Homo sapiens: one gene and its partners. The protein of the gene in region 3 interacts with the protein of the main gene of each other region in a biochemical or structural test. Each region holds a gene or a part of one and is shown on either strand. Other genes may lie near its edges. The genes, in order: DGKZ, GNAI3 and RGS12.

The links.
Region 1: the proteins of RGS12 (region 3) and DGKZ interact in a test that uses a peptide from one of them, tested with the Homo sapiens proteins (one large-scale study listed by IntAct).
Region 2: the proteins of RGS12 (region 3) and GNAI3 form a complex in vitro, tested with the Homo sapiens proteins (one study listed by BioGRID).

What each region holds. Positions count from the first base shown.
Region 1 is NC_000011.10:46,353,937-46,357,585, forward strand, and holds part of DGKZ (diacylglycerol kinase zeta), read left to right. Parts: intron 1-3,649. UniProt on the Homo sapiens protein: Diacylglycerol kinase that converts diacylglycerol/DAG into phosphatidic acid/phosphatidate/PA and regulates the respective levels of these two bioactive lipids.
Region 2 is NC_000001.11:109,575,993-109,579,641, forward strand, and holds part of GNAI3 (guanine nucleotide-binding protein G(i) subunit alpha-3), read left to right. Parts: intron 1-3,211; coding exon 3,212-3,369; intron 3,370-3,649. UniProt on the Homo sapiens protein: Heterotrimeric guanine nucleotide-binding proteins (G proteins) function as transducers downstream of G protein-coupled receptors (GPCRs) in numerous signaling cascades.
Region 3 is NC_000004.12:3,320,448-3,324,096, forward strand, and holds part of RGS12 (regulator of G-protein signaling 12), read left to right. Parts: intron 1-3,477; exon of another isoform or gene 3,478-3,649. UniProt on the Homo sapiens protein: Regulates G protein-coupled receptor signaling cascades. Inhibits signal transduction by increasing the GTPase activity of G protein alpha subunits, thereby driving them into their inactive GDP-bound form.

The DNA of each region.
Region 1 (3,649 bases), on a different chromosome or scaffold from region 3:
CGCCCCCTTCCCCAGCTTGCTGACATTTTACAGAGAGAGGCGGGGGCGGTTGTGAAAGGGGGCAAGCTGGTTCTTGCTCCCCAACCCACACGGACACCCCACTGACACAGCCTGCCACCACCCACCCACCTCTGGAAGGCATCCCCTTGGGGGAGACCTTCCTTCCATCCTGAGGGCCCTGAAAGGGTGAGGGACAGGCTGCCAAAACCATCCCTGGTAGACCCAGGGAGCTCTAGGGGGCTGGTCTCCCTCAAGGGGTCTTTTGTAGGACACAGGATCTCCCTCTGTCACCCAGGCTGGAGTGCAGTGGCACAATCATAGCTCACTGTAATTTCAAACCCCTAGGCTCAAGCAATCCTTCCACCTCAGCCTCCCGAGTAGCTAGGACTATAGGTGGGGGCCCCCATACCGGGCTCATTTTTTCTTTCTTTCTTTCTTTTGTAGAGACGAGGTCCTGCTATGTTGCCCAGGTTGGTCTCGAACTCCTGGCCTTAAGTGATCCTCCCACCTTGGCCTCCTGAGTTGCTGAGATTACAGGCCTGAGCCACTGTGCCCAGCCTCTGGAGTCTTTTTAAGAAATGATTTTGAAATCTTTCTAAACACATTAAATATCTTGGCGTTAGAAAAGTGTGCAGAATAAGGTGACACCTACTGCCTAGCTTGGTTGGAGCTTAGCATTAGGCCATATTTGCTTTAGATAGAGATGGAGGCCCCTGTGTCTTACTCCCTGGAGGAAACCACAATTCTGATTTTGGTGTGTGTGATGTTCTTGTGCCTGTTTTTAAAATTGTCCTACATAGGTATTCATGCCTAGCAACATACAGTGCTGTTTCGTATGATTTTACTCTGGTTTAAATGGTATACCAGGCATATTCTGCATTTAGGTTTTTCCCTCAATATTGTTTTGGAGATTTAACCATCCTAAACATGAATTCTCACGGATCCATTTTAACCTCCACGTCCGATTCCATTGTGTAACAGCAGCTTATTTGCCCAGGCTCTGTTGACGGACACTTGGGTGGTGTGCAGTTTTTCGCTATTGCAAGCGATCCCTCTGTGTTCTCTCCACCAGTGCTTGCTCACAGGGTCTGTGTATTTTCAGCTTAGACAGATGTTGCCAAATTGTGCTCCGAAGTAGTTGTCCTAATTTTTAGGCCTCTGTGTTTATTTTTTTATTTTATTTTATTTTTTTGAGACAGAGTCTCACTCTCGCCCAGGCTAGAGTGCAGTGGTGCGATCTCGGCTCACTGCCAGCTCTGCCTCCCGGGTTCAGGCCATTCTCCTGCCTCAGCCTCCCAAGTAGCTGGGACTACAGGCGCCCGCCACCACGCCCGGCTAATTTTTTGTATTTTTAGTAGAGACGGGGTTTCGCCATGTTAGCCAGGATGGTCTCGATCTCCCGACCTCGTGATCCGCCCGCCTCAGCCTCCCAAAGTGCTGGGATTACAGGCATGAGCCACCGCGCCCGGCTATTTTCTTTCTTAAAACTTTCAGTAAACTGGGGAATTGTTTCCCAGGAACAAACACTTTCTCCTTCAAGCCTGCAACACTCCCTTGAGAGAGACGAGGGTGGGCATTAGCCCTATTTATCAGATCAGGAAACTGAGGCTGAGGCAGGTTAAAAGGCTTAGCTTGAGGTCATGTAGCTGGTCAGAGGCAGATCCTCTGGGCCTTTGAAGCTAAACCTACTGTGAAGGCCTTTGTCCCCTGTGTGAGTAGTGTGGAAGCCTGGAGAGTGGGGTGGGGCCCTGGGGGCTGATGGGGGAGGGAGCAACATGGTCAGAAAGTTGAGGGGGGAGGTGTTAAATTTTTTTTTTTTCTTTTTTTGAGATGGAGTTTTGCTCTTGTTGCCCAGGTTGGAGCGCAATGGCGCGGTCTCGGCTCACCGCAACCCCTGCCTCTGAGGTTCAAGCGATTCACCTGCCTCAGCCTCCCAAGTAGCTGGGATTACAGGCATGGGCCACCACACCCGGCTAATTTTGTATTTTTAGTAGAGATGGAGTTTCTCCATGTTGGTCAAGCTGGTCTCGAGCTCCTGACCTCAGGTGATCTGCCCGCCTCAGCCTCCCAAAGTGCTGGGATTACAGGCATGAGCCACCCGCCCGGCCAGGGTGTTAATATTGAATGAGGGGTGAGGGGGAAATGCTTCTCCCAGCAGATGGGGAATGGGAGCCCTCTGCAGACACAGGAGAAGACAAGGATGGGACGGTCACCAGAGAAGAGTGGGGGCCCGCGAGGGGTTTATAACAAAGGGGCCCCTTTGGGAGGCTAAGGGAGATATATTGGCATTCCCATCAGGGATCGGTTTCAGTGTTGCCTCTGAGACACCAGAGCTCAGCCCAGACCAGACTTGTCCACCCAGTGCAGCAGGAAGTTCTCGGGAGCTGGCCCACTCCTGGGGCTCTGTGCCCACCTGAAGCCTGTGCTGTCAGCGGGATCCATGAGGCTGAGTCCAGACCATGCGCTGTTCCCTCCACTCACTCTTCAAACCACACCCAGCACTTCTACACTCTGGGGATGCCATTAGAAGCAATGTGAGGCCCTGGGGCTCACAGCCTGTCCGGGGATGCAGATTTGCACATTAGTGCTGATTGCCCAGGGTCTGAGAGGAAAACCATGAGGGAGAATTCACTGAGTAGAGAGGGGAGTGGTATTCCAGGTAGGGAGACCACCGGATGCCACGTGGTGCCACGTGGAAAAGGGACCCGCGGTGTTTTGTTTGCCAGAAGCATCCAGGGTGGAGCCTGAGGGGTCGAGGGTATGTGCCATGGAACACACTACTGAGTTCAAACCCCAGCACTGCCACATGTTAGCTGGACGACTTCAGGCAAATGACTTAACCGCTTTGTCTCTCAGTTTCCTCATCTGCAATATGAGGATACGGGCCATGGGGATAAGAATACCAACTATTCTTAGGAGGATTCGTAGCTTAATATTTGTAAAAACACTTAGAGTAGTGTCTGGTGGAGTGAGTTATGTAAGTGTCAAATACAGCATTAAAAATATGAAAGAGCAGAGAGGAGGCTGGGAGGCCTGTTGCCTGCCAGCCCCAGGTCTTTGCATTTTGCTCAGCTGACAGTAGAGTCAGTAAAAGGTGATTGGGTGCTTTAGGATGAATTCTGATGGCAGCGGGAGTCTGGCTTGGAGGGAGGCACTAAAGGAATGGGTTGGTCATTTGTTGCGCAAACATCTCTTTGAGGCCTAGCAGGGGCTGAGTCAGGGACTCGGATGTGAAAGAAGAGACTGGGGGTATTTCACCAAGGAGCTCAGGCCAGCTTAGGATCCCCGCCTAGCCCCCAAGCCTCTGAGACAGCCCCTCCTCCCCTTTCCTTGCCCACCACCCTCCCCTTGTGACTTCATGTCACCAAACCGACTATCTAGTTTTCATGAGAAAGCCATGGAGAACATGGAGCGGGCGATAGCATCCAGCCCAGAAAGGGGCCTCCAGGTGTCACTCTTGGGGTCCTCTAGAGAGGAGAGGAAGGTGGCCACCCAAACCAAGGCTGTTGCCATCCCCTTGTACCCAACAAAGAGAAGTGGCCTGAGCCAGCTGGAGCCTGTGGTCAGCCGTTGCATGTGGTTACACAAGGTGGAAGAAGCCTTTCTCCTCCCTTAAGGTGCTGGCCCCTCCCCTGTGGAATTCCCTGTT
Region 2 (3,649 bases), on a different chromosome or scaffold from region 3:
AACATTGCTTTTTATTTTTCCTTCTGTGTGTAAGGTTTTATGTTTATAGCTCCTCTCTTATTGTCTTCTAGTATTTTTGTTTGTTTGTTTTTTGAGGCGGAGTTTTGCTCTTGTCACCCAGGCTGGAGTGTAACGGTACGATTTTGGCTCACTGCAACCTCTGCCTCCTGGATTCAAGTGATTCTCCTACCTCAGCCTCCCAAGGAGCTGGGATTACAGGCGCCTGCCACCACGGCTGACTAATTTTTGTATTTTTAGTAGAGATGGGGTTTCGTCATGTTGGCCAGGTTGGTCTTGAATTCCTGACCTCAGGTGATCCACTTGCCTTGGCCTCCCCAAGTGCTGGGATTACAGGTGTGAGCCACTGTGCCCGGCTTCTACTCTAGTTTTTTATAGTTGGTTAGAGAGTGTGAATGGAAAAAAAATAGAGCTGAGTGTGGAATAGGTTCCTTTTTCACATCTGCTTAAGTGTGGAGGTGTGAAGTTTATTGTAAAGAGGGGCCTCTTCTGTTTTTTTTTTTGTTGTTGTTTTTTGTTTTTTTTGAGACAGAGTTTCACTCTTGTTGCCCAGGCTGGAGTGCAATGGTGTGACCTTGGCTCACCGCAACCTCTGCCTCCTGGGTTCAAGCGATTCTCCTGCCTCAGCCTCCCGAGTAGCTGGGATTATAGGCATGCACCACCATGCCCGCCTAATTTTTTTGTATTTTTAGTAGAGACGGGGGTTTCTCCATGTTGGTCAGGTTGGTCTGGAACTCCTGACTTCAGGTGATCCATCTGCCTTGGCTGCCCAAAGTATTGGGATTACAGGCGTGAGCCACCATGCCCAGCCAAGAGGCACCTCTTTATAGACCTTTAGAGAGGGTTTATTGTGGGGAAGCAAGAGCAGGTCAGTGGAAGAAATTAAGTGATAAGAAAAAAGTGTTTGCTCCTAAAAGAATATTTAAAGAGTCAGGACAGCAAAAAAAGTAGTAATAATTCCCTCTCTTTTGAAGTTTCTAAAATTAGAGTCATGGTTTTTTTCTGTTTTTTTTTTTTTTTAAAGTAGTGCTTAATAAGGTTATTTGAATACGTGCATGGGTATAGGTCAAATTTCAGAACCAGGGGATTATGAAGACTTCACATGTTAGATAAAGCACCATACCTTGCATATGTACAAGGACATGCTCACTGCTGAGTATGTTTGCCAATTTGTCTAATATTTCAACTTTTCTCATTCATTTGTTTAAAATTTTATCTTTGAAAAGAAAGGGAGGGGCATATAGATCTTAGCTAAGGTGTTTTTTTTGTTTTTTTTTTTTTTTTGAGATGGAGTTTTGCTCTGTCGCCCAGGCTAGAGTGCAATGGCACCATCTCAGCTCACTGCAACCTCCGCCTCCTGGGTTCAAGCAATTCTCCTGCCTCAAACTCCCGAGTAGCTGGGACTACAGGCACACGCCACCATGCCCAGCTAATTTTTGTATTTTTAGTGGAGATGGGGTTTCACCATGTTGGCCAGGATGGTCTCAATCTCTTGACCTTGTGATCCACCCGCCTCGGCCTCCCAAAATGCTGGGATTACAAGTGTGAGCCACCATGCCCGACCAGCTAAGGTGTCTTAGAGTTGAGCCTAGTCTACCGCCATGCCACCCTGAATGCGCCTGATCTCAGAAGCTAAATGAGAGTGGGTTGAGCCTAAATATTACTAGAAAGAATACAGGAAAGGATCATAAAGGAGGAAATATTACTAGGTAAAAACCATTAGAGCTGGAGACCCAGAGTTTGGCAAAAATAATTTGAGTGCACCATGGATGGTTTTGTTTTGCTAAGGTGGATGCACAAGTTCTGGTAATTCACAAGTCTTTGGAGTTTTAGGTTGTGAGTTCACCTGTGGTCTGAAATGACTTTTGCTTGTTAGTTTATTTGTCTTGATGACTACTTAAGATACAAATGATTGCTCCCCTTTCTCCTTTACTTTTTCTTTACACGTTATATACTTTTTAAATTTTTTATTTTTATAGTTATTTGGAATCTCTCAAGGTAGATAAATATTAGATGTGGATGGGAAAATCATCCCGTGAGACCTGTGTTTAATTTTAAACCAACAAGTAGGGATGGATAGAATAAAGGAAAACAATAAAAATCTCATAATCCATTTCTGTCCTCTCCCTCACATATTTTATGTTTAAAAACTATAACCACCTAGAAAACTATGGCTATGTCTGGGCCCAGTGGCTCACGCCTGTAATCCCAGCACTTTGGGAGGCTGAGGCGAGTGGATCACCTGAGGTCAGGTGTTCGAGACCAGCCTGGCCAACATGGCGAAACCCCTCTCTACTAAAAATAGAAAAATTAGCTGGGCATGGTGGCAGATGCCTGTAATCCCAGCTACTTGGGAGGCTGAGGCAGGAGAATCGCTAGAACCCAGGAGGCGGAGGTTACAAGGAGCCGAGATCACATCATTGCACTCCAGCCTGAGTGACAAGAGCGAAACTCCGTCTCAAAAAAAAAAAAAAAAAAAAAGAAAAGAAATAAAGAAAACCATGGCTATGACTCATGAAGTTATGGTTACTTTCTTTTCCTCCTGCTCCCTTCCTTTCCCTCTCTCAGAACATTATTATTATTCCTTATTCCTTTAGGGAAATCTAGGGACTGTTTGAATCTTTCCCTGAGGGATTTATTTCCCCCATTAGGCTTCTAGACCTTAAGTGCCTCCATCTCCTCTTCTTGTTCTACTGTCTGGGCTGAAGGCAAAGAAGAGAATACTTTTTTCTTAAACTTGATTAATGTTTTACTCCCTTTGAGGTGTTTAGACTTTACCTCTTATGTGCTAGTCTTTTTATTTCTATTTTTAGTGTAGGCTTCCTTTAATAGAACGGGAATGTTTTACATAATCCTGTCTCATAAACCAGTTTTTTTCTCTCAAAAATTATTAGCAATCTGGATGGAGATTTGTGGGCTGGCCAGAAATGATCTTTTCTGGGGATGGTGGTGTGTGGAGGAGTGGTGGGGAAGTAAAATCATTCCTCAGCTCAGTTCTGGACTTAAAACTGTAGTGAAATGAGAATAAGGAAAGACTTAATTATAAATTCTGTCATGCTGGCCTGTCAGAAAAGGTCTCTGTAACAACACCTCTTTTAACATAACATGTAATGTGTCTATATTTTAAAGAGACTGTCATCAAGTCTTAAAGAAATGGAGAGTCATCTGTCTCTTTCTTAACTGCTTTCTTCAGGATGATGCCCGGCAATTATTTGTTTTAGCTGGCAGTGCTGAAGAAGGAGTCATGACTCCAGAACTAGCAGGAGTGATTAAACGGTTATGGCGAGATGGTGGGGTACAAGCTTGCTTCAGCAGATCCAGGGAATATCAGCTCAATGATTCTGCTTCATAGTAAGTAATTTTTCTCTGTGAAACTATAACAGAGAATAACTTGGTGACACTACAGAAATTTTAGTCCCCACTTAAGGAAATGTTTAAGTAATAGACACTCTTAGACGTTTATAGGATACTTTATAAAAATTGTCTAAGTTTAGGATTATAGAGCCCTTGGTCATTTGTATGATTTGGAGAAAAAAGTTCCCTCTTGGAATGTAAATGGGAGACTTGGCACCACAAAATTAGTTCCATGGCATTTTATTATAAGCAAGTGAAGGAGGAGAGACATCTGTTG
Region 3 (3,649 bases):
TACCTTGATAGGAATCCTGAGGCCATCAGGCCAGGCGATTGAGGTTTGGCTGTCAGGTGACTTGCTCACAGTCACAGGGCATGTGAGTGCTGGGACCAAGACAGCCCTGGCGCTCCGTGTGGGATTTGGAGTGGCCTTCATAATGTGGCGTGATACACTATCTAAAAATAAACAGGTAGTAACGTGTTGTGTTTTATGGGTTCCTGCTGTAATCTCTTGAGGTTTAAGTGTTGCTGTTTACTTTGCCAAGTGGGCCTCCCTGTGTAGTTAGGTGAGTCTGATCCCATAGCCTCCCCAGTTAGAGCAGCAGAAGCTTCCAGGGGTCATGAGGCGGCCACAAGATGGGTCCGGACGTCGCCGTGGACAGGTCTGCAGAGTTTCGAAGGTGGCCGTGACCGTCCGCAGCGATCAGGGCCCCACCTGGACGCTGGCCTGTGCTGAGAGAAGGGGCCAGCAGGGATGCAGGAAGTGCCTGGAAGTTAGAAGAAGCAGCAGAGTTGGCACAGGGAGGGAGAGAGCAGAGGAGGCCCCTGGAGGGTGCCATGGTGTCAGGCAGCGAGCTTCACGTGACTCCGGATTCTTAGTGACGGGGACTTCAGGGCTTTACTTTGCACAAACTCAGGTGGAATCAGTCAGGATCCAGCCAGGAGACAGGAAACGCAGCAGTAATTTGAACAGGAAAAATTCAGTATACAGAATCGTTAACAAAGGAAAAGAAGGTTAGCTGCTGAAAGAGAAAAGAAAGGCTAAGGTCATCAGTGTGGAAAGGGGCTGAGTCTAGAAAAGTGGGCGTGGGAGGCTTAGATACCCAGAGTAGGGGCCTTATCTGACAGGACTGTGAGTCCATCGCAGCTGTGAGAGAGTGAAGCAGCTCCAGGTGAGGATTGGTGGCTGTCCCCAGTCCCCAGGAAAAACGATGTGGGACCCTCACATGCCAGTCCACCCCACTCCATCTGGGAGGCAGTGCCTGTGCCCATTGCTGAACATTGAGCCCCTGGGCAGGAGCCATGTGGTCTTCAAGGCCCAGTGCCAGGATCAGAAGCTGGGCACGGCAGGGTGGGTTTGGCGCTGAGAAGAAATGCCTTGGTGTCTGGCACAGTGCCCCGTTAGGCTACCCAGCGTCTGTATGCACCCTTCTTCAGCACCCCCAAGGGCATCTCACTCCCAGCTTCTGCTTTTGAGTCCGCCTTGGCTTGCCTGCACCCCAGGGCAGGGTTTTCTGTGGCTGTGGAGCAGCTCCGGCCTGGACAGCCACGTCAGCTCCTCCCCCCAGTGGACTGCAGGCATGTGGTGTCCAGCGCGCTCTGAGGCCCAGGCCTGGGCAGGGGCCCCTGCTGACGGTGTCCTTGGCTTAGGCACTCGCCCTTAGCCCTAGAACAATCTTCAGCATTCCCTCTACACAGTTATTACTAGTTCTATGAATGTTAAACGTTCCCTTTGAAATTACTGGCACCAGCCTTTCTTAATCTGTATGCAAAATAAGCTGACTATTAGAAGAAATATAATACTGCATCTAGTCACAAGTTGGTCTCTAAGGCCAATAGTTCTGTGTCCTAACTGCCACCAGATTCTCCATTGTTGTCCTTTGCCAACGCTTTTGTCACTGCCGCCTCCATCCTGCTGTCTGCAGGCTCAGCCCGGGTTTCCGCCCTCAGTGGCCACTTGCTCCTGTGAAAGCCTGGGGACCAGCGAGCCAGACCCCTTGTTGCTCGGCATTTCTACGTCTCCTTGGTGAGATGGAAAGCTCTAACCCCCTGCACACCGAGCCACGTGGTGACCTTGTGCCAGCTCATCCTTGTCAGCTTCTCCCTCCTCTGGGGAGGAGCAAGGAAGGGGAGCTGAGTTACTTGTAGACTCGCTGAGGGTCTGAAATTCTTGAAGTGGGTGAGATGATGTTTGGAAGTGGACTGCTTTCCCTTTTGTGTAGTTTGCTCTTTGTCTCTGCCTAATGTCTGTAGCCAGCACAAGCTGGTTCTCATGGAGATAAGCATTCAGGCCTGTGACTAACAAAAGGGGCTGATGTGAAAGAGAACCCAGGATCTCGAAATGCTTCTGTCATCAAAAATGATTGCCTTGTGTTTCATTTAAGGCAAGCGTGTTTAATTCTGTGTCTCTGCAAACTGACTCAAAGTTATATTAATTAATTAAATTAATTAATTAAAATACCTGGTTAAGTAGCAGCACCCAAATTCTTAAAATTTCCATACAATGGATTTTGGAAATTTTAAAAATGAAAATATGTTATTTGTGATATGTAAAGGATTGATTGGTGTAATTTTGAAATGAATGAATACATATTTTTAAATTCCTCAGTTTAATTTCTGGTATGAGAAACATCAGTAGCTGAAACCCACAAAAATAAAGACTCGCTGAGGTGCTCAGTCGTTTGTAGGTACTCCCAGGAGTCCTGAGACCACAGCACTTGAGGACTGCTGCCCGCAGAAGGTTGGATTTGCAGGAGTGAGTTCCTTCTCAACTGTTGCTTACTGAGATAAGACCATTAACAGAGAATGGAGAAATACCTTATGGGTGTACTGGAGTACCCGAGAGCTACATCTGAGTGAGATAGTGGTACCTGCATCACCTGAAGTACATCTGAAAATCGCGCTCATAAAAAAGGCAAAATACAGAAGCCTCAAGCCCGTGAGCAGCGCAGTCTGCTGTCCAGGGTGGCGCGTGCCCCTCGGTGGGAGGACAAGCCAGGGGCGAGCGGGAGGACGAGCAAGCACCAGGCTGGGGGGCCTCTCCCGGGAGGGGTGCCGTGGCGCCTCGCTCGTGTTGGTGCAGTTTTATTTCTTGCGGTGCAGTGTGTTGGTGGGTGCTCATCATCTCATTCTCCACCATTTGTTCATGACGACATACCCAAAGGTACAATCACAGACACAATGCGAACAGCACTGTAAGAGTCAGAGCCTTAGATGCTGCTGCTGCCTCTGCCCCGCTCCGCGCGGGGAGCTGCAGTTCAGAGTTCGCTTCCTTTCATGGACTTACTCTGTTTGCACAGGCTCTTGGATATTCTCTTCCTTTTCCTTCCCTTTATTGAAAATACATGTGACATACTGCTGTGAGTTACTTTTTTCTAAAACAAATTTCTCATGTACATAGTTATATATCAATTTTAAAAACTCTTCTTCATTGTAGTGGCCACGTGGTATTATGTCATATGCCTGTGCCATTTCTTACTGAATCAGTCCCCAGTTGATGGCAACCTTAGACTGTTTCTATATTTAATAATAAGCTGGATTGCAGTAAAAATTCTTAAAGTTCTATCTTTGTATATATGTGAGTTTTCTTTTGGGTAGGTTCCTAGATGTGGAATTGCTGTTTTTAAAAGTGTATGTGCATTTTAAAGTTTGCCAAATTGCTCACCAAAGAGGTTTTCTAGTTTATATTTTTGTCAGTAGTGTGTGTGTGTGTGTGTGTGTGAGAGAGAGAGAGAGAGAGAGAGAGAGAGAGAGAGAATGCCCCCTTTTTTATTGAAGGAGAATTTGTGTTATTTTGATGTACAGAAAACTCAACAGTGTTCATTTCACCCAGTTTATTGGCAGGTTCTGTGGCCTTTGCCTTTTCCAGCTTGGCAACGTGAGCCACAGATTTTGGTCCCAGAGCTAGCTTTCCCAGCGATGGCAGATCTTGTCATATCTGTTGT